4 linked regions of the Homo sapiens genome follow. The protein of the gene in region 3 interacts with the protein of the main gene of each other region in a pairwise test. Each region holds a gene or a part of one and is shown on either strand. Other genes may lie near its edges. The genes, in order: REN, ENSA, KCTD15 and NBPF19.

Region 1 (6,305 bases), on a different chromosome or scaffold from region 3:
AAGAGTTACTTCTTGTCAAGAGTCAATTTAGAGGAGTCAGCTGCCCGGGGATTAAATAACCCTGAAGTGACTTCCTTCTGTTGCCTAATTTTGATTAGACAAGGCTATTTGTTTATTGGTCCGTTCATTCATTTATTCCGTAATCACCTGCTGAACAACTACTTTGTGCCTCACTGTGCTGGACACTGGAGCTAGAAAGATAATGATCATGACTGCCTTTAAGGAACTCCACCTGGCGGGAGGACAGACAGGAAACAGGCACAGACATTCCCTCTGAAGAGATTAATGCCAGGGAGTGCCCCTGTCAAAACTAGGGGCTGGCGGGGAGACAGTGCCATGGGAGGCCGCTAGGTGGCAGCAGATGCCCACAGCAGCTGCAAGGTCTCCAGGATACCAGGGGACAGGCACCCAGCCAGGGCTGTGGTGGAGTGGACCCCCTGAGCTGGGTTGGGCCTAGAGAGATGCCAGCATCTTCAGAGCGCCATGCACCTCGTCCTTGGAGAGATGTGTCCCGGTCCCTTGGCTTCTTGTCTAGATGTTTTCCCATCACCTTTGAGAGGCAGAATTAAAGAGACCTAGGAAACTGACTCTACTGAGCCGCTACTGAAATCACACCAACAAGCTAGCTGTCATCCATTTTATAGATGAGAAAAATGAAGGCTCACAGGGACAAAGGTGACTCAGAAATGTTGAAGCAGGGATTCAGAGCATGTGTCTGGCCCTATTTCCCATATAGGGTCCCCTGGGTCCCGACATAAAGGCTGCCAAAGCCCAGAGGAAGATGTCTCTAGCTGTTCACGGGAAGGTCCCAGGATGGAAGCCCAAGTTGACTCTGCAATAGACTTTCCCATACACACAAAGATTCCCTCTTTCTTCTACTTTCTTCTCAGTGGCTAGTCCTCCTATACTCACACTACCCTTTCCTTCCTACATCCTTCTTGCGTCCCATGCATTCTACTTACCCCCATTTTGCCCATGAACATGAATGCAACTTTTATGCCTATCAGCATGGTATTGTAACAGAAATGATTTGTTATCTTCCTATCACAGGTTACTGTTACCAAAATATTTTCACAATCATTATTTTATTTGCTCTCATAAGGTGGATGATTTTATTACTCCCACTTCACAGCTGGGAACGTGGAGGGTCAGAGGTTTGGCCCCAAAGAGGTTGCATTTCCCACTGTTTACTCACAACAGCCTATGCTTTGGACCTTTACTTCTTGCCATTTCCTTTTCAGAAAATCCTTTCCTTCTTCCCTTCCTTTTCCCCCCAGTTCTTTAGTCCTCCAAGGCCCAACATGTACCCCCACCTCCAGGAAGCTTACCCCAAGGCCTCCAGCCCACACCGGCCTCACCTTCCCGTGGGCCTCAGCTCTGTTTTTCCTTGGGTCTCACAGCCCACACTGTACAGCTTGTGGAACTGGTGCCGTACGGTGGTGAAGACAGTGGTTGCAGGGGGCATGCCTGAATCCCCTTACCACTTATGTGATTCTGAGAAAGCTACCTAACCTCTCTGGGCCTCTTCTAAGTCTCCATTAACCCCTCTCTAACAATGGGCCTAATGGTAGTACCTACCTCAGAGTCACTGTGCAGATGAAACCATGCGACCACTGCTCAATAAATGTAAATTGTAGGTGTGTATATGTACATGTTCACCTTGAGAATGGAGCTCATTCATTCAGCTGTCCCAAGTGCCTCGCATGATGCTCTGCACATAGCGGGTAGCAAAATTCCTATAATACTGTTTCAAAAGCTGGATTCCCCCTCCACCCCTTGCCCAATTCCATTCTTTTTCTCTTTTGGATAACAGCAGGGGAAGATGTTTTTACTTTCCTCTACCTTTATCCTGGAGTGCAGCTGCTTTGAAGCACCCATCCTCTTACCCAGTGCTCACAACCCAGCAATTACTCTCCGAGAGCCTCAGAGCAAGGGAAAGCAGTTTCGGAAGCAAAAGGCCCAGTGTGTGTTGAGGCTTAGCCTCTTACATATCACCTCCCTGAGCCTCAGTGTCCTCATCTGCAAAGTGGGAATGCTGAGTTGTTGGGGGCATGACTTGAGATGAGACATGTGAAAAGATCCTGTGACACCCTAAGCATTTTATAGGCTTAGCAACTATTACCATTATTAAAGTGTGCCTCCCTACCTTCAGGACTGCTGGTCATATCTGCTGTCCCCAGATTGAAAACCCCTTTCTCTGTGAGGCCTTTTCTCAAATGCTGTCTCTTCCCCTTCTTCAGTCTTTTTTTTTTTTTTTTTTTTTTTTACATAAGGTCTGGCTCTATCACCCAGGCTAGAGCACAGTGGGTCAGTCTCTGCTCACTGCAGCCTCCACCTCCCAGGCTGAAGTGATGCTCCCACCTCAGCCTCCCGAGTAGCTGGGACTACAGATTTGCACCACCACACCTAGCTAATTTTTGTATTTGTACAGACAAGGTTTCACCATGTTGCCTAGGCTGGTCTTGAACTCGTGAGCTCAAGCGATCTGCCCACCTCAGCCTCTCAAAGTGCTGGAATTACAAGCATGAGCCGCGTGCCCAGCTTCCTTCTACAGTCTTAATGAATCACTTGTTCCCACAAGGCCTGGCACCTAGGGGATGCTAAGGTTTTCTCCTTCTAATTGTGGGCTACCTAAAGCCTTGTTTTTTTCTTTCTTTTTTTTTTTTAGACTGAGTTTTGCTCTTGTTGACCAGGCTGGAGTGCAATGGCGCTATGTCGGCTCACTGCAACCTCAGCCTCCCAGGTTCAAGCGATTCTCCTGCCTCAGCCTCCCAAGTAGCTGGAATTACAGGCATGTGCCACCACGCCCGGCTAATTTTGTATTTTTAGTAGAGACAGGGTTTCTCCATGTTGGTCAGGCTGGTCTTGAACTCCTGACCTCGGGTGATCTGCCCCCCTCGGCCTCCCAAAGTGTTGGGATTATAGGCGTGAGCCACTGCTCCCGGCCAAACCTTGCTTTTGATATTTGTAAGAATCTATCCTGTAGTACTAACAGTAGCTGGGCTCTTACAACGTGCCCAGCTTTCTATGCCTTATCTCCTAAAATCCCCAAAGCAGCCCCATCAAGTAGGTACTGTTATTATCATACCTGTTTAAAATGATAAACTGAGACTTGGAGAGGTTAAATAACTTGCCCATGATTCCAGACCTAGTTTGTTCTGCTAGTGAAGCAAAATTTAAATGAAGGCAATCTAACTCTATAAGCCTTGCATTTAACCACGATATCAAGCTGCTTCCCTGGTACAGTTAACTGTACCCATGCCCCGACCCCCGTCTTTTTTTTTTTTGAGATGGAGTCTTGTTCTGTCACTCAGGCTGGAGTGCAGTGGCACGATCTTGGCTCAGCAATCTCCACCTTCCGGGCTCAAACGATTCTCCTGCCTCAGCTTCCCGAGTAGCTGGGGATTACAAGTGCCTGCCACCATGCCCGGCTAATTTTTGTATTTTTAGTAGAGATGGGGTTTCCCCATGTTGGCCAGGCTGGTCTCAAACTCCTGACCTCAAGTGATCCGTCTCAGCCTCCCAAAGTGCTGGGATTACAGGCAGGAGCCACCGCGCCCAACCACCCATGCCCTTCTTAATATTCAGGCTGTGAGCTCCTCAAGTGCAAGGGGCATGTCCTAATACTTCTGAGTTCTCTACAGTGCTTAGTTAGCATGGTGCTCTGGGCAGGAAGCAAAAGTCACAGCTTCTAGACCTGACTACTAGTGTCATTTATTGGGCAAGTCACTTGACCTCTCTGAACAGGTCCATACTTCCCTGTCCAGCTGATCGTAAGGACTGAATGACACCGCATGTGGAAAAGCCAGGGTGTTGGGAAGGTGGGAACCCTGCACCCCTCCCACCCCTTCTCTGCCTGAGTTACCAATTACCGTTTAAAGGTGGTGGTGTCTGTCGGGAGACCAAAGGTACAGGAGCCCCAGAGCAGCAGCAGCAGTCCCCAGCGAGGCATCCTTCTCCATCCATCCATGCTTCCCTCAGTCTGGGGCTCTCTCTGAGATCCACTGAGGTTCTGTGGCTCCCTTAGCCCTTCCCCTTTTATACACTCCATGCATGGGGTGATTGCAATTCTGCTCTGCCCTGATTTATTACCCTGGGGTAGATGGCAGGGCAGTCAGCAATAAATCTCACTGCGGGACAGAGCTAGGTGGGTGAAGGGTACCCAGGTTTCCGGATGGGGAGCAGAGGGGCTGGAGGAAGGACAGCTGTGGGAAAGCAATCTTGTGTCCAGTGACGCTAGCAGCCCTCTATCTGGCTTGGCCCTGTGACCCCTGGAGCAGGCAGAGGCTGATGAGAAACAGCACTGCTCAGGGCTAACATCAAAACTGGGACAAGCGTAAAACCTAGGTTTCCAGCTCCCTAGCCCAGACCCAACCCCTATACCCTGGAAGCTCCATTCTCTATATTAACTTTGGCTTTGTCCCTGACTGGCCTCTCCCAGGCTACAGCCCAGTTTTCCCATCTAGAACATGGGTGAATCTTCATGACTGGTTTCTTGGCAGGAAAAGCAACAGCTGGTTTAATTATAAGAGTAGAGGGGCCAGGCATGGTGGCTCACACCTGTCCCAGCACTTTGGGAGGCCAAGGTGGGTAGATCACCTGAGGTCAGGAGTTCCAGACCAGCCTGACCAACAATGGTGAAACCCCATCTCCACTAAACTACAAAAATTAGCTGGGTGTGGTGATGGACACCTGTAATCTCAGCTACTCAGGAGGCTGAGGCAAGAGAATTGCTTGAACCCAGGAGGCGGAGGTTGCAGTGAGCTGAGATCATGCCACTGCACTCCGGCCTGGGCAATAAGAGTGAAATTCCATCTCAAAAAAGAAAGAGAGTGGAGGGAGACTTAGCATGACTGACTCCATTTTGCCTCTGACCCCCAGGGGTATTATCCTTTAGGCTAAAAGCTTCTGCTTAGCTCTGTACATAGACCAGCTAATTATAGGAGTTTAGCTTGCAGTTCAACTTTAAAAAAAATGGTAACAGTTCCTTTCCCCAAACTAACCCCCAAGGAGATAAGGAAATATACAGACAAATAACAATGTTATGTTAAAGATGTATAGGAACATTGTGACCTGACCTAGAAAAAAGAAGTTTTACAACGTCCTCAGACCCTTGCTGGCACCCAGGTGTCTGTGGTCATCAGTCACCTCTTGATCCCAATCCCCTTCTTCTTCCCCTTCCCTTAACATAAAGAAGAGCCTAACGTTCATGCTGACTTCAGATGGTTCTTTATGATGCTGGTCCACCATCTTCTTGGTTTTCTGGTTCTCTGAATAAGGTAGCTTTCCTTGCCACAATACCTTGTCTCTAGACTTATTGGCTGTTGTGTGGCAAGTGATACGAGCTTGGACTCAGCTACTCATAGCCTTGAACAGTCTTTCTGTGTCTGATTACATTCAAGTATTGTTTTCATCAGGTTTGACTTACAGGTTATCTAAATGGGCTTCCCATAAGAAGAAGCAATCACACTACAGAAAGTTTTTCTTTGCGTTTTTGGTAGCTGGCCTAAGAAACAATTATTTTAGGCTGGGAAACAGTGGCTCATGCCTGTAATCCTAGTGCTTTGGGAGGATGAGGTAGGAGGCTCACGCTCACTTGAAGCTCGTTCAAGACCAGCCAGGGCAATATAGCAAGACCCCATCTCTGAAAAAAATTAGCTGGGTGTGGTGGTGCGTGCCTGTAGTCTTAGCTACTGGGGAGGCTGAGGCGGGAGGATCACTTGAGTCCAGGAGTTCAAGGCTGTAGTGAGCTATGATTGTGCCACTGCACTTTAGCCTGGATGACAGAGTGAGACCCTGTCTCAAAAAATAAAAGGAAAGATTTTACATTTTCTCAAGATAATTCCTCATTCTTGTTATCTTTATCAGGTTTTTGATTACTTAGGAAAACTGAGCTTTAGAAAGGTTAAGTCTTTATATTCATGTAACTTTCTGTATTGCTATTAAAGTCTTTTAATTATCACTTTTGTGAAATGAATAATTATTATTTTACAAAGACCGGCGGTTCTGTTTTGATCAAATGGTTTGAGGCTTTAACATTTTGACAAATGTCCTCAAAATCTAATCCTAAATTAAGTTTGAAATGTTGCTAATTCTTTATGTTTTGTTTTCCAGAGTCAAGAAAGCCTTTTTTTTTTTTCTGAGACGGAGTCTTGCTCTGTCACCCAGGCTGGAGTGCAGCGGCGCAATCTCGGCTCACTGCAAGCTCCACCTCCTGGGTTCACACCATTCTCCTGTCTCAGCCTCCCAAGTAGCTGGGACTACAGGCACGTGCCACCACGCCCAGCTAATTTTTTGTATTTTTA
Region 2 (4,785 bases), on a different chromosome or scaffold from region 3:
TTGCAGAATCAGTTTGCTTTGCTTGCCTAGCCCTACAGTATGGGAGTGAAGGAGATGGACTGTCAAGTTTTAAAATGGGATACATCCTGCCAAGTGTGCAGTGGTGAAGAACTAAAAGGAAAAAAAAAAGGCTAAGGAGTAACATGAAATACAGATAGCCCCAAACATTTTTGGCACCCCAGGCTTCTTAAGGCCACAAATTAAAATTGAGGACCAGGGAAGCCAGGAATAGTGGGAAGAAATAATATAAAAGCCTAAGATACTAACTCAAGCTCTTCAGCTAACTAGCTTTTCTACTTTACAAGTAACTTATCTCTATACCTTAATTTCCTCACTTGTATTAAAATGAAATTGCACTAACTGCTGGGTGTAGTGGTTCACACCTGTAATCCCTGCACTTTGGGAGGCTGAGGTGGAAAGACTGCTTGAGGCCAGGAGTTCAGGAGCAGCCTACACAACAAAACGAGATCCTCTCTACAAAAGAAAGGATGAAAATATATTCTCAGCCAGGCGCAGTGGCTTATGCCTGTAATCCCAGCACTTTGGGAGGCTGAGATGGGAAGAGTGCTTAAGCCTGTGTTCTGAGACTCACCTGGACAACATGGTGAATCCTCATCTCTACAAAAAATAATTAGCCAGGTGTGGTGGTGTGTGCTTGTAGTCCCAGCTACTTGGGAGGCTGAGATGGGAAGATTACTTGAGCCCAGGAGGTTGAGGCTACAGTGAGTGTTTGCACCCTGCACTCCATTCTGGGTGACTGAGCAAGATCCTGCCTCTAAAAAAAAAAAAAAAAAGAAAGAAAGAAAGAAATTGAATGATCCCACATTCAGCCTCATAGACCTCACCTCATTCCCCAGCTGGCAAACACAAACCAGGGATAACATACTCAGGAGGAAATCATGGGATGGCTCACTAACCCCACCACAATAAACACCATTAACTTGTGTCTCTAGTTTAAATTTGTACTTGTTTTATTTTATTCATTTATTTTTTTTAGATGGAGTCTCGCTCTGTCGCCCAGGCTGGAGTGCAATGGCACAATCTCGGCTCACTGCAAACTCTGCCTCCTGGGTTCAAGCGATTCTCCTACCTCAGCCTCCCAAGTAAGTGGGATTATAGGCATGTGCCGCCACGCCCGGCTAATTTTTGTATTTTTAGTAGAGATGGGGTTTCACCATGTTGGCTAGGCTGGTCTCAAACTCCTGACCTCAAGTGATCCACCCACCTTGGCCTCCCAAAGTGCTGGAATTATAGGCGTGAGCCACCGTACACCCGCTGGAGTTTTTTCTCCTTTGGTAACCTTTCTTTTGTACGTTACATTCACAGGCAGCTTTTAACTTCTTTCAGTAGCAGGTTTCCAGCAATGCAGATTGGCACATCATGAGGAAAGAAATCACTCTGCCTCCTGCTGGCCACCAGCAGAAAGACTTGAGTTTCTTTTGGCTTATTACAAAGAAATAATATATTTCTTTTGGTTTGTCACATTTCTCCCTCACAAACATGGGAACTTGAAAAGGAATGGAAGACAGAGGGAAAAGGAGACTGGGCCTCCTTTTCTGCTAAACCTGGACTAGGCTTAGGTGTCAAGAAACCATTTAGATCAAATATCTTAAATGCCTCATTTTGTGAGCCACAAACTGAGGTTGATGCACCTTCTACATTGGTTACAGAAACAAAGGGATGGGCAAGGTTTATGCCAACATTCCTGCTCCCTTTCCTAAGTGATGGTATTGGGGAACTCAGCCGCATCTCACATTAACAATGTCTTCAGTATTGTTTTCTTCCCCCTCCCAAACCCCAATAAAACACACCAACTGCTTCAGAATATTTCTGGGTTGGGTTTTTTCATGGGTTTTTGTTTTGTTTATTTCGAATACTGAAAAAGTCCTTTGGGCTCTGTGGGGTTCCCCACGCTCACGGCTCCTTTCTCCCACACTCACTGCCCTTCTTCCCACAGCAAATCTATTTCAAGGACAGTACTTTTTAAAATGATTAATGTTGAGTTCTCAACTAGCTCTGCAGAACTAGAGGAGCTGTTTGCATCTGTCTGTGCGGATGGAGTTTCTTTTATCTGACACCAGGTCTCCAACCACACTGAAACAAGGCATTTATCTACAGAGCTCAACTAGAACCCCTTTTCATTAGGCTACTCCACTTCCTTCCCCTCATACCTACCCCACATCAGCCACGTGGTTAAGAAGGATAGTCAGGAATGTTTTTACCAACTCCAAGCCCTAATTCATACTCCTCCATATCTCCCACCCCACCCTTTCAACCCCACCCCCACCCCCAGAATTTCATTGATATTTCTCCCAACTGTTATTTGGAAAAAAGGTAAAACAAAAAAGGTTCAAGGTCTTGGTGCTCAGCCCAAGGGGCTCCATGTGCTGGGACACCAACAGGAAAGGGCTTCTGCCTCTCCAGCCCACACCCGAGCCACCTCCTGACCCCTGGCTGCAAAAGCAGGAAGGGGCAGGAGCCAGCACAGGACCCGGGTGGGGCAGGGAGGGGAAGCGTCTCAGGATCTGGCAGAGCCCCGGGCAGCATCATTCAACTTGGCCACTGCGGACGAACACAGAAGAAAAAAAAAAAAAACAACACTGTCAAGTAATAGGGGAAAAAAACCCTGAACTCCAACCCAGTCTCTACCCCATGATTCCTCCACATTTAACAACCATTAGGCTACCTGGCATGTCTCAATCCTATCCATAAGGGAGTTGCAAAAAAAATCAAAAAATAGAATTTCAGTCTTTTCCTATCCACGAAACAACGTTATCTGCCTTTCTGGGATATCCATGGATAACAAACATAGAAAAATAATTCTTTAGATAAGATCAAAATAACTGGAGGTTTCCAGGTGGGTAAGCTGCCTGGCTCAGAGCAGGCTGTTTCAGAGGCATGGCCACAGCTACTTGCAAAGACTGAGGTAGCACAGAGATGAGGTGGTGACTGTGTGGAGGCCAGAACCAGACCACACACATGCTGTTCTGAATGGATTTAATAATCTAGGTTTAATCAAAGCAATTTGCATTTGGATTTTGGAATGACCACTCCTTGCTAAGGAAGCTATGTACTTCATGCTGTGGAAACTGGCAAATACAGAATGTAGCTTGTTTGTTTTCTTAGCCTTGAAGATGACCAGGTAGAGAGACAGAGTGAGACCAACAGTTTTTCTGATTTCCCTGCTCCTCCTATTCCTTCCTAAAAATCAGACTCATTGTGACCAGTAGTCTTGAGGACTCAAGCTGAATGATAGAGAAGGCAGCTCAGACAGAAAAGAAAAAAAGTACAGAATTTGAGAAGATCGGAGATGAAGAAAACGTACAAAATTATATATATATTTATATATATAATAACATGACATATCTATGTACAACATGGCTGGGACAGTTGAAGAAACTATACAATGGTGTTCAGCATTTTCCCCTTCCCAGATGGACTTTAAGGATGACAGCATGAGGAAATGGAGCAAGAAACACAAAAATTATATACAATTACAAGTGACAGTCAAGGAGTTTGGGGACCAGGGAGTCCAGGGATCCTGCTCTCTCCATTCCTTCCTCACCAACTTTCTCCTATCCAATTTGAATGACAGCCTGAACACTGAATGGCCAGTCAGGAGAAAGGCATATACACACCTCATCCCCCCACATGCACATCAGCAAGTCTATCAGTCATTCTCATTGGGCCAAATGTTTGGCATATCAGAATTTGTGATGTGAGAGGGCAAGAGGATTACAGAATCTTGCTCTCTTGAGCATTAGTTCTCACCCTGGTCCTCTCTGTCATAACTAGCAAGTTGCGTTCAATAAAATTCTAGCCAAGCTGGTGGTAACTAGATTGAAGATGCTGGTCACCTGCAACCCCTTTCCTCCACCTGTTCATGAGTCAGCATGGCTACCTCTCCTCATGATAAAAGAGCTGGGTTGCTGAGTTCTGGGGATGCAGAGATTTCTCAGTCTTCCTCCTCTCCCTCCCTAACCACTTTCCCCAGCTTCCTCCAAGGTGAATCATCTTCTAAGAACCTGTTCCTCCAGCCCTGCAGGAGTACTCAGCCCCAGGGGCTAGCTCAGTTTACCCTTCTTCCTCTTTCCCTAACAATATACCTGGCATCAGACTGCATCTGAAACATGGGTCAACACATGTGCATGACTGAGCATGTTTCCTCAGGCCTGCAGCTCCGCTGCCAGAGAAGCTTTTTAGCAGCTAAGGCCCAGAGGTAGGCTGGGAAAGTGGGCTGGGTCAGAGGCAAGAAGCTTCCATGGCTAGCTTCCTAAGTATTTTTTTTTGACCCTCAAGACTGTGATATCTATAAGGTTCTCTTGCCTGAATTTATAATCCCCAAACCTCAATTTACTCTCTCCTCATGTATCCCTCAAATGGTTCCCCTCTGTAGTACTTTCCCAGTATTACAGAGCAGAGGTTCACCACCCACGAGCCTTCCTCACTTTTAGTTTTACAATGAACAGTATGGAGTTTTTCTGCTGGCAGTTAAGACTTCAGAATCAGAATCAATCTTACATACATTTAACTCTATTTTACAGATGAGGAAATAGAAATCCAGAGAGGCTAAATGACTTAATCAAGGTTATACAACAGCTCTGCTGGGACTGAGTAGAGTGAGAACCCAGATATCTTGACTCCTAAACCAGTGCTCGTCCCACTATCCCATGATACTTTCAAAAGCAACATGCTGGAAGAGAGAGAGAAGGTGCCCATTTTCTGTGAATAATGTTCATCAATCTTTATATTATTTGAGAGCCAGAGCAAACTGTAAGAGATACT
Region 3 (5,791 bases):
TTTCAGGACAGGCTGATTCTAGATCTTTCCATGGTTCAGTATAGGCTCCTGGATCAAGCGGCAGCTGTACCGCCTCTCCCAGGACAGAGGCCTTTCATGCCCTCAGCGTCTGAGGCTGCCAAGGACGTGAGCAGGTTGAGGAAAGGTGAGGATAATCACCATGGAGGAGCCCTCAGCCATTCTCAGCCCTGCAGGTATGAGTTCCCAGCTCTGTCAGGGGCTCCACGTTCCCTGTGGAAAATGGCCCAGGCCACCCTCTGAGAGAGGATGCAGGGTTTGAGGGGCCGGCTTCCGAAGTCCTCCATGGAATGAGGTGGCCAGTTCACGCTGCAGCAGGTGGGACCCTCAGGGGCAGAAAAGATGCCTCCAACCACCTGCCCTGTGTGCACAAGGGGGAGCATCAGGATGGCCTTCGTCTTCTCGTTTATTTCCTTTTTTTTTTTAAGCTCTGGCTCCAATTTCCTGGCTGTTTCAGGCACCAGGTTTTAAGAGTTCTGAAGCTCCTGGCCATCTTCATTTGATGCTTCCCATAGTCAGGATGGATGTCAGAGTGTGGCTGTGATGGCGGCAGCTAACGGGGGTCAAGCAGGCAGGACACCAGCAAGGGGGCCGGCCCAGGGAATCCACTCCCAGCCCCGGCTGTGCTTGGCTGTCTCGGGTGAGGACCAGTGACTGCTCCTAGGCAGACCAGAGGAGTCACCCAGCACGAGACTCTCCAGCACCCAGGCCACCCCAACCGCCGAGACCCAGAGGCTCAGGCAGAGTTCTCAGGGGAGCCGAGGGTAGAGGTCCCAGCTTTTACAATGCTGCCTAGGGCAGGTCATCTTCACCATCCAGAAACCCCCTGAGGACCACAGCACTCTTAGTCCTCCATCTCCAGGTGTCTCCTAGATCAGTGACACTAGGTGAGATTGATTTTTTCCAGAATTGGTAGAAAACTGCTTATATTATAATAATCCACTACAGGAAGGACAAGAGAGATCTGAGGGGCTCTTGCCAGCACAGCTGCCTGACCCACTTCTCAGGCCCCCTGGCCTCCTGTCCCCTGATTGTCCTGCAGGTCAGCCATCCCTGGCCTCTAGTCCAAAGCTTCAGGCCTACAGAGCACCCCCACAGCAGCCAGAGGCCATCCAGGCAGAACAACAGATTCACCTTGAGCCCCAGCCCTGGGGAAGAATAAACATAGACTGCCACCCCTTGGGCACACCAGGAGGGTCCCAAGTGCCAGATCACAGGGCCACAGGGGCCCTAGCTCCCCATGAGAGCACATCCCACAGCAGAACAAAGCAATGGGTGAGCAGCACAGTGGGGCTGGGTGGGGGGAGATGGCCCCCTGCCCTCCTGCTCTCAGGCAGCAGCCAAGAGCCCAGAATGAGAAGCCTCTCCCACCCGCCTCCCCCAGGGCCTGGGCTGTGATTACTCCAGACAGGCAACTCTCTGATTTCAGGAAACTCTTCAGAGAGGGTTGTGGGCAAAGGTTTTATGAATTTCACTCACAAACGTCGTCAACCGATTAAGGGATGATCTATCTCAAACAACTCAGAAATGCCGCAGAAGGCAAAATGGAAATTAAATAAGCAGAATCTATCTCCCATCCTAGACAGGGCTCTGTGAGTGAGCACACAGGCCAACACTGCTGACCTGGCCCCGTGGCTCTTGTCCCCACCCCACAAGCCCCAAGGCCACAGGGCCCCAGGCTGAGTCTCTGTCCACCTGGGGTACTGGAACACCAGTCACCATCTGTACCCTAGACTCTCCAAATTTGGAACTAGACACTGCACCCATTTCCAGTTTTTCCTCCTCAAGGGACCATGCCTGCACCTGCACAGGCTCCCCTGCAGCCCCAACAGGCTTGGAAAGCCACCTCTGCGCACTACCATCCTCCCTGCTCTGAGGAACCACACCGGTGACAATGCAGCCTGCCGTGTATGCTCCCCAGAGATGATCCCTCAGTATCTGGGGGATTAATTAACTCCTCCTGTTATTTCAAATGCATAACACAGGGGTGATGCCCACAGCCTTGGCCCTCCCACGCTCAGCCTTCAGCAGCCCCAGGGGAGCGATGACCGCCTCTCTGTGCCAGGAGCAAACATCCTCGGCTGAGCAAGCTGCTCAAGACCCACCCTACTCGGGTCAGCCCTGCTGCCGTGCCAACGGGGAAAGCAGGTCCCTCACCCAGGAGAGAAACACCCTGCAAGGAAGAGCAGGAGAGCTGGCAGCACCCAGCACCCCAAACCTCTCGCAGGCCCAAGGGCCTGGGCAGCCTATAAGTTCAGCAGCATGGAGGGTGCCTGTGAGCCCCCAACCAGGGTCCTGGCCAGAGACCCTTTATCCACTGATGAGGTATGTGATTCATTCCTAGCTAGTCACTGCAGCACCAGCTCCAAGGGAAGCCTGCTGCTAGCCTCTAGGGCCCAGCAGTGGCCACGGAAAATGACAAAGATGGCACACTGCAGCTCACCACAGCTCCTCTTCCCTCCCCTTGTGAATTTCCCAGGGGTGGAATAGAAAATAGGATTAAATACCCACCCCCATGCCCCCAAGACTTACCTACTCAGTATCACTCACAAATGACCCCCTGCAGGGGCCGGGCCTAAGTCTCCCTCCAGAGGAACCTTGAAGGTACGTGAGACTCCCCTGCCCGCTGCCGGCAGGCTCAGGCTGGGCTGGCTCTGAATAAGCCCTAGTCCCCTGCAGGTGGGTCAGGAGCTCCACCTTGCACTACCAATGCCGCCAAGTCAGGGTCACAAGCCTCTGTGCATAGCAGCTTTCAACAGGCAGACTTGGACTCCCCAACCCTAGCTCCCTCAGGCTGTGTCAGCTTGTGCACCCTGGAGACCCTGGTGGGTGGAGTGACAGTGGGGAGAGACCCCACCCCCTAGGCAGCAGATTACAGATGCTGCCCTGACCCACACATGCCTGATGTTTCAAGGGGCTTACTCTTACCTGGAGTCAGGGTACTTGGTGAGCGTGGCCAGGCTGCTGGTGTACATGTGGCCGCCCACATCGATGTGCACAGGTGCATTGGACTTGGTGAGCTGGGCTGGCAGGGGGATGCCCTGGGCAGCCAGGGGAGACACAGGCGACCGGGTGAGAGACAGCCGGGACATGTTTCCTCCCTCCTAGAGATGGAAACAAAGCGGAACACAAGAGTTTCAAAGCGGAACACAAGAGTTTCTCCACAACACAGCCATGCACTCCCTTTATTGAGAGTGTGATCACAGATCTAATCAGATCACTTCTGCCCGTGCCTGATCATATATTCAGCTGACAAATTATGGCCACCACTGTAATTAAGTGTATTTGCATCATTTTCTTCAAAGTACCAGAGGGAAAAAGAAAGATGCTTATTAGCAATAAGAAATCAAGAAAAAAAATTTTTCAAGGTGTCAGCCTCCAGGGGCATAAAACAAACTGCAAAATTCTAATTAAAGGTCGTGGGCTTATGTGTTAGATGTGAAATATCCCCTGACAAACGAATCACCAATTTGTGAATTGGGATTCAGGGGTTTTTTGCAAGTTTGTCTCAGTAACGAGACACCTCTAAATTAGTGACTTCCTCAGCACCTAAGGCGTTGAGTTTTATACATGTAGTAAATTTCACATCAAATTAAGAGCATTTTTGTTTCAAAAATACATAATCCTACAGCCAGTCAACAGCCACCTGGAGTGTCATGGTCCCAAGGAAGGACAGCCAGTAAACAGGCACTGGGGAAGAAGGGAAAGAGGGAACTCCCGGCAGGGACCCAGCCCACCCTGCAGGCTCACCGCGGTGCCGGTGCTGCCGTGTGTGTGAAGCGAGGACCCGCTCGGCCGCTCCTTGCGGTGAGGCATCTAGGCTTCCATCCCTGCCCAGAGTATCTGCGGGAGGCATCGACAAAACCAGAGAAGGCTTATTCCTCCTAGTCATGTACCATGGGGTCAAAGACACTTAGAATTGTCCTTTCTGCATGCTCTCTGAGACCCTGCGAGGTCCATGCAGCCCTCCCTGATTGACTCCACCGCCACTATCTCTCTATCTGTCTCCACACCCCAAAGCAGGCCTCCAGGCTGTAGCAGATGACACACACATACATGCACACACACACAGTCACACTCACACATGTGTTTTCTGGGCAGCTCCATGTCTGCTAATTCGGCTAATGACAGCACTGAAACATATGCTCACCATTATTGCCCCAAAATATTTCAGAACAAACCAGATTTTCCTGGTATTTTCCTTTCAAGCCATGTTACCAAGCGTGTCTCCTCTTGCAACAGCCTTGTGGACCAAGGCTCAGAAAGCACCCCTCACCCTCCATGGGCCAGGGAACCTAGGACCTCTCTTAATACCATCCCCATGGTGATAAGATACAGCTTGCATCTGGCCAGACACAGGGAAGCCGTTCAGCAGAAGTCCAGGCACATGGATGAGGGCAAGTCACTTGGGAAGCCGCCTCTTCTCTGTGGCTCCCAATAGCAGAGAAAACCTGTCTTTGTTTGCCTAGTCTGTACCTCACAGTTTCTCCCCAGACTCCCAGAGTGGTGTTGTCTATGCCTAATGCATTCCAGACCCCTCAGGATCACATACCCCCGAGGCATCAGGAGATGGCCAGGTGGCCAGGAGGAAGCACAGAGCAAGCAGATCAGCCAATGGACCCTTTCTACTGCTCCTCCCCAGAGGCACTCAGTAACTCTCCTCTGTGCCGTAGTCACCTGAAATAAGATTGTCCCTCAGTCCCTGGAAGCCACACCCAGGGGCGCTTTGCAGGCCCTATGCAGGAGGGGCAGAATTCTGCAGCCCCGTTCACTGATTTACAGCTGTCTCAAAAGGGAGGAAAGAGGAGATTTGCACGTGAATAGTCACCCCCCTTCACACATCCACAGACACTGGCTTCCACAAACCTACCCTGGACGTCTCTCGAAGGTTTAACCTTTAAGAGAGAAACCACTTGAAATTCTTGGGACCCATGGGATTGCTTTTTCCCATTAAAACTCTGGGATCAAAATTTGTGCCTTGAAATTCAATATCCAATTTTAATCCAACCAGAATCAAATCCTGCAAATGTAAGCAAGGTTGCTCTCCCTGAGTGCCCGGGCAAGTTTCCTGACATAAAACTGGGGTGGGAGGTTGCAATGGGCAGACAGTGATGTTTAATATATACCCTCACTGGGGCCTGTGGACTCAGAATCCACTGCTTTTGGCATTCCTGAGTTCTACAAGCTTAAAAAAACAAAACCAGGTCACTTAGCTCAAGGAGTTCTGAGAACCAAAACAGACCTCAGGAATGGATTATCCTGCCCTAGGAGGCTCTGCTGGGGGAGGAGTCAGAAGGGAAGACGCGCTGAGGATAAACTGAACAGGAAGGAATTCTGGCTGAAATTCTATCAAAGCGGACTGCAAGATGTTTTCCCCAATACCAGGACACTATTCCAAAGTGACGTGAACACCAAGCCTCCATCACAGAAGCCGCTCCACTCTGTTCTTAGCCCCTTTTCCCTCCCAAGAACAACCTGATGTTCATGGCAAGCCAGAAACTTACCGTTGGAAGCCCCAGGCTTTACGCCTTGCCGTGAATCTCCAAGGTTTCTCCCAACAAGCGCATCCGTGCGGGACCACGACCCTCTTTCCGAGACCACTGCTTAAGTCAGAAGCACAAAAGTGGGTGCAGTGAGAGATACAAGTTCATTCCACCAGCACCAGCATCAAACCCAGCACCCAGCCCCAGTGCGCCCTGGCCCGCCTGTTGCAGGGGCCTCAGCGATAGCGGTCGGGAGGGCCCACAGGTTTCCAAACTGGCCCGGTAGTGAC
Region 4 (5,791 bases), on a different chromosome or scaffold from region 3:
AAGCCAACACACTGTTGCTCCAATATGTAAAAGGCACTTCTGTAGGGCTGGCATGAGTCAGTCAGTTCAAGACAACCTGAAGGAGTTGAATAACATCTATCCAGTGAGTCCTGCAAGACTTCAGGCCCTTTCTCATCCAGCAGCTCCCTGCTGAGCCTGGAAAAGTGGGAAAAAGTAAAGAATAAGCCAGGGGGAATCAGAAACCGCACAGCCCCAGCTAGATTTCATGGCTAACGTTAAGGAAGAGTTTGAAAAGAAAAAGGACAGATCCATTAATGAGGTAACAAATTATTGCCTTTATGTTGGGATAGAACAGGGCCAGGTAGAAAACAATGAAAGAGAAAGACAGAGAGAGAGAGAGAGAGAGACAGAGACAGAGAGAGAGACAGAGACAGAGACAGAGAGAAAGTGACCTAGTGAATTGGCCAGGTGACATACTGGTAAGGGAGTAAAAGGACACTCTGAGTTAGTGCCCTCATGACACACAGCAAACTGTGATCATGAAAAGAGTGAGCTCAATAGTTTTCCATAAAATATGCTCAAAATTCGATGCAGTGGCCATGAGAGTACAGCTTTTGAAGTATGGTCAACCTATGGTACGTTAGGAAATGATAAGGGGAGGAAGAAATGGAAACCTAAACATCTACTGCAATGAAAACCAACAGCAATGACAGTAGGAGTAATTCAGCCTTCGTTGAAAACATGACATCAAACACACTCTGGTTTCCCTGAATCTGTTGCCTCCAGGTGTTAACACAGAATTAAGCATCCACAATTGCTGAAAGTCACCTGGGGCATGGTGGGTTTTGATCTTCTTCCCCTTCTTTTCTTCCCCTTCTTCTTTCCTTCTTTGATCTTCTTCCCCTTCTTTTCTTCCCCTTCCCCTTCTTTTCAATTTCTGCAATAAATTCAGACATGGACAGACACATTAAGCTGATTCCCCTACACACATAACAATCCACTGTCTAATCCTCACACAGGGACCTCAGGCTCCTCAGCATAAGAATAGGACACTGTGAGAGATATATTTCAGGAGGCCTGAAGGCTGGTCATGATAGAAATTCCTCGGTTTTTCTCCCAGAAACTGTGGGTAAAATGTCCCTATTCTAGTAGATCGTTATCCCAATATCATTTGTCCCAAGTTTGTGCAAACAGTTATGCCATATTTTTCCAATCAATTTAAAGCAAATACCCTCAAATGATTTCTAGGAGAAAAACTGCAATATTTAGCCCTGTCTCATCAAATACTCAGATTGTTCATGGTTGTGAGGACTTTAGACACTGAAATTAGAGTGAAAAAGGAAATCTACAAACCCTTGAGTCAAAATCATAGTTCTCTGAATTTGTCACATCTGCCCAGGTCCAATGTCATGAGAATAGGATCAGGGCGCCACAGGTATGGCCTGAGACTAGGAAGAGAGTCTTGCTCACTGACCCATCCCTTGTCTGGGCTTCCAGGTAGAACTAGAGTTTCATTCAACCTACATGTGCCTATAGGTCCTCACTGCGGCAACGACATCTCTCAGCTCAGTAATGGCCACTTGGAGCAGGAATATGATCTTTATATGGAAGACTCAGTGGATGCTTATCACCTTCATAGAAAGGTACTCACCTCCCACGTCAAGAGAAAAGCCAACATGTTTTTCCTCCAATGCATAAAAGGAACTTCCATAGGGCTGGCAGGAGTCAGGCTGTTCAAGACAACTGGAAGGAGTTGAATAACATCTATCCAGTGAGTCCTGCAAGACTTCAGGCTCTACTACCTCCACCAGCTCCCTGCTGAGCCTGGAAAAGGAGGAAAAAGTAAAGAATAAGCCAGGGGAAATCACACACAACAGAGCCCCAACTAGGTTTCATGGGTAGCATAGGGAAGTGGTTAAGAAAGTAAAAGGATAGATCCATTAATGAGGTAACAAATTATTGCCTTCATGTTGGGACAGAACAGGGCCAAATGGAAAAGAATGAAAGAGAAAGACAGATGGACACACACACACACACACACACACGCACACACACACACACACACACACAGAGAGAGAGAGAGAGAACGAGCTCAGTGAATTGTCCAGGTGACACACTGATGAGGGAGTAACAGGACACTCTGAGTTAGTGCCCTCAGGACACACAGCATACAGTGATCATGAAAAGACTGTGCTCAATAATTTTCCATAAAATGTGCTCAAGTTTCCATGCAGTCGCCATGAGAATACAGTTTTTGAAGTCTGGTCCACCTACAGTAGGTTAGTAAATGATAAGGGGAGGAAGAAATGGAAACCTAAATATCTACTGCAATGAAAACCAACAGCAATGTTAGTAGGAATAATTCAGGCTTGCTTGAAAAGATGTAATCGATAATGTCAGCCCGCTCTGTTTTCCCTGAACCAGGAGTCTCCAGATGTCAACACAGAAGTAGCTGTTCACAATTGCTCAGTTACCTGGGGCATGGTGGGTCTTGGTCTTCTTCCTCTTCTTGGTCCTTTTTAATTCCTGCAATACATTCAGACAGGGACAGACAAAATAAGCCAATTCACCTACACCCATAACAGTCCACTGTCTAATCCCCACACAGGGATCTCAGGCTCCTCAGCATGAGAACAGGACAATGTGAGAGATATACTTCAGGAGGCCTGAAAGCTGGTCATGATATTCTTTGGTTTGCATCTCAGAACCAAGGGTGAAATATCCCCATTCTGGTAGATCGTTATCCCAAAATCACTTATCCCAAGTTTGTGCAAACAGTTATGCCTTATTGTTCCCATCAGTTCAAAGAAAATGCCCCAGATGATTTCTAGGAGGAAAACTGCAGTATTCAGCCCTGTCTCATCAAATGCCCAGCTCGTTCATGGATGCAAGAATTTTAGACACTGAAATTAGAATGAAGGAGGAAATCTACAAACCCTTGAGTCCAAATCATAGTTCTGTGAATTTTTTGCATCTGCCTGGGTCCAATGTGCTGAGAGCGGGCTCAGGTTGCCACAGGCATGGCTGGAGACTAGGAATAGAGCCTTGCTCACTGACCCATTTCATGTCTAGGCTTCCAACTGAGACTACAGTTTCATTACAACCTATATGCGCCCACAGGTCCTGCCTGCGGCAATGACATCTCTCGGGTCAGTAAGGGCCACTTGGAACAGGAATATCACCCCTATCTGGAAGACCAGGTGGAGGCTTATCACCTTCATAGTAAGGTACTCACTGTCCACGTCAAGAGCCAAGCCAAGGTACTGTTCCTCCAATGAGTAAACAGCACTGCTGTAGGGCTGGCCTAAGTCAGGCAGTTCAAGATAACCTGAAGGAATCGAATAACATCTATCCAGTGAGTCCTGCAAGACTTCAGGCTCTTTCTCATCCAGCAGCTCCCTGCTGAGCCTGGAAAAGTAGGAAAAAGTAAAGAATAAGCCAGGGGGAATCAGAAACCACACAGCCCCAGCTAGATTTCATGGCTAACATAAGGAACTGTTTAAAAAGAAAAAGGACAGATCCATTAATGAGGTAATGAATTATTGCCTTTATGTTGGGATAGACCAGGGCCAGGTAGAGAAGAATGAAAGAGAAAGACAGGGAGAGGGAGAGAGAGAGAGAGAGAGAGAGGAGAAAGTGAGCTCAGCGAGTTGGCCGGGTGACACACTGATGAAGGGGTCAAAGGACACTCTGAGTTAGTGCCCTCGGGACACACAGCGAACAGTGATCATGAAAAGAGTGGGCTCAATAATTTTCCATAAACTTGCTCAAGATTCCATGCAGTTGCCATACAGCCTTTGAGGTATGGTCAACCTATAGTAAGTTAGTAAATGATAAGGGGAGGAAGAAATGGAAACCTAAACATCTACTGCAATGAAAACCAACAGCCATGTCAGTAGGAGTAATTCAACCTTCGTTGAAAACATGAAATTGAACACACTCTTGTTTTCCCTGGACCTGGCATCTCCAGGTGTCAACACAGAATTAAGCATCCATAATTGCTCAAAGTTACCTGGGGCATGATGGGTCTTGGTCTTCTTCCACTTCTTGGTACTTTTCAATTTCTGCAATAAGTTCAGACATGGACAGATATATGAAGCTGGTTCTCCTACACACATAACAATCCACTGTCTAATCCTCACACAGAGACTTCAGGCTCCTCAGCATGAGAATAGGACACTGTGAGAGATATTCTTCAGGAGGCCTGAAGGCTGATCACCATAGAGATTCCTTGGTTTTTGTCCCAGAAACTGTGGGTAAAATTCCCTATTCTGGTAGATCGTTATCCCAATATCATTTGTCCCAAGTTTGTGCAAATGGTTATGCCATATTTTTCCAATCGATTTAAAGCAAATACCCCCAAATGGTTGCTAGGAGAAAAACTGCACTATTCAGCCCTGTCTCATCAAATACTCAGATTGTTCATGGTAGCGAGGATTTTAGACGCTGAAATTAGAGTGAAGGATGAAATCTACAAGATCTACAAAATTGAGACAAAATCAGAGTTGCGTGAATTTGTCACATCTGCCCAGGTCCAGTGTCATGAGAGTAGGATTAGGGCGCCACAGGCATGGCCTGAGACTAGGAAGAGAGCCTTGCTCACTGACCCATCCCTTGTCTGGGCTGCCAAGTGGAACTAGAGTTTCATTCAACCTACATGTGCCTATAGGTCCTCCCTGTGGCAATGACATCTCTCAGCTCAGTAAGGGCCACTTGCAGTAGGAATATGACCCTAACCAGAAGACTCAGTGGATCCTTATCACCTTCATAGAAAGGTACTCACCATCCATGTCAACAGCCAAGCCAACACACTGTTGCTCCAATATGTAAAAGGCACTTCTGTAGGGCTGGCATGAGTCAGTCAGTTCAAGACAACCTGAAGGAGTTGAATAACATCTATCCAGTGAGTCCTGCAAGACTTCAGGCCCTTTCTCATCCAGCAGCTCCCTGCTGAGCCTGGAAAAGTGGGAAAAAGTAAAGAATAAGCCAGGGGGAATCAGAAACCGCACAGCCCCAGCTAGATTTCATGGCTAACGTTAAGGAAGAGTTTGAAAAGAAAAAGGACAGATCCATTAATGAGGTAACAAATTATTGCCTTTATGTTGGGATAGAACAGGGCCAGGTAGAAAACAATGAAAGAGAAAGACAGAGAGAGAGAGAGAGAGAGACAGAGACAGAGAGAGAGACAGAGACAGAGACAGAGAGAAAGTGACCTAGTGAATTGGCCAGGTGACATACTGGTAAGGGAGTAAAAGGACACTCTGAGTTAGTGCCCTCATGACACACAGCAAACTGTGATCATGAAAAGAGTGAGCTCAATAGTTTTCCATAAAATATGCTCAAAATTCGATGCAGTGGCCATGAGAGTACAGCTTTTGAAGTATGGTCAACCTATGGTACGTTAGGAAATGATAAGGGGAGGAAGAAATGGAAACCTAAACATCTACTGCAATGAAAACCAACAGCAATGACAGTAGGAGTAATTCAGCCTTCGTTGAAAACATGACATCAAACACACTCTGGTTTCCCTGAATCTGTTGCCTCCAGGTGTTAACACAGAATTAAGCATCCACAATTGCTGAAAGTCACCTGGGGCATGGTGGGTTTTGATCTTCTTCCCCTTCTTTTCTTCCCCTTCTTCTTTCCTTCTTTGATCTTCTTCCCCTTCTTTTCTTCCCCTTCCCCTTCTTTTCAATTTCTGCAATAAATTCAGACATGGACAGACACATTAAGCTGATTCCCCTACACACATAACAATCCACTGTCTAATCCTCACACAGGGACCTCAGGCTCCTCAGCATAAGAATAGGACACTGTGAGAGATATATTT

What was found.
Region 1: the proteins of KCTD15 (region 3) and REN interact in a two-hybrid assay, tested with the Homo sapiens proteins (one large-scale study listed by BioGRID and IntAct).
Region 2: the proteins of KCTD15 (region 3) and ENSA interact in a two-hybrid assay, tested with the Homo sapiens proteins (one large-scale study listed by IntAct).
Region 4: the proteins of KCTD15 (region 3) and NBPF19 interact in a two-hybrid assay, tested with the Homo sapiens proteins (one large-scale study listed by BioGRID).

The regions. Positions count from the first base shown.
Region 1 is NC_000001.11:204,162,324-204,168,628, forward strand, and holds the start of REN (renin preproprotein), read right to left. Parts: upstream 4,015-6,305; 5' UTR 3,971-4,014; coding exon 3,873-3,970; intron 1-3,872. UniProt on the Homo sapiens protein: Renin is a highly specific endopeptidase, whose only known function is to generate angiotensin I from angiotensinogen in the plasma, initiating a cascade of reactions that produce an elevation of blood pressure and increased sodium retention by the kidney.
Region 2 is NC_000001.11:150,620,298-150,625,082, forward strand, and holds the end of ENSA (alpha-endosulfine), read right to left. Parts: exon of another isoform or gene 2,981-4,785; intron 2,563-2,980; coding exon 2,547-2,562; 3' UTR 1,828-2,546; downstream 1-1,827. UniProt on the Homo sapiens protein: Protein phosphatase inhibitor that specifically inhibits protein phosphatase 2A (PP2A) during mitosis.
Region 3 is NC_000019.10:33,798,498-33,804,288, reverse strand, and holds part of KCTD15 (BTB/POZ domain-containing protein KCTD15), read right to left. Parts: intron 5,622-5,791; 5' UTR 5,619-5,621; coding exon of another isoform or gene 5,523-5,618; intron 4,696-5,522; coding exon of another isoform or gene 4,667-4,695; exon of another isoform or gene 4,571-4,666; intron 3,862-4,570; 5' UTR 3,835-3,861; coding exon 3,769-3,834; intron 3,123-3,768; coding exon 2,947-3,122; intron 1-2,946. UniProt on the Homo sapiens protein: During embryonic development, it is involved in neural crest formation. Inhibits AP2 transcriptional activity by interaction with its activation domain.
Region 4 is NC_000001.11:149,501,412-149,507,202, reverse strand, and holds part of NBPF19 (NBPF family member NBPF19), read right to left. Parts: intron 5,660-5,791; coding exon 5,551-5,659; intron 4,918-5,550; coding exon 4,745-4,917; intron 4,026-4,744; coding exon 3,974-4,025; intron 3,370-3,973; coding exon 3,197-3,369; intron 2,488-3,196; coding exon 2,436-2,487; intron 1,786-2,435; coding exon 1,613-1,785; intron 899-1,612; coding exon 790-898; intron 157-789; coding exon 1-156.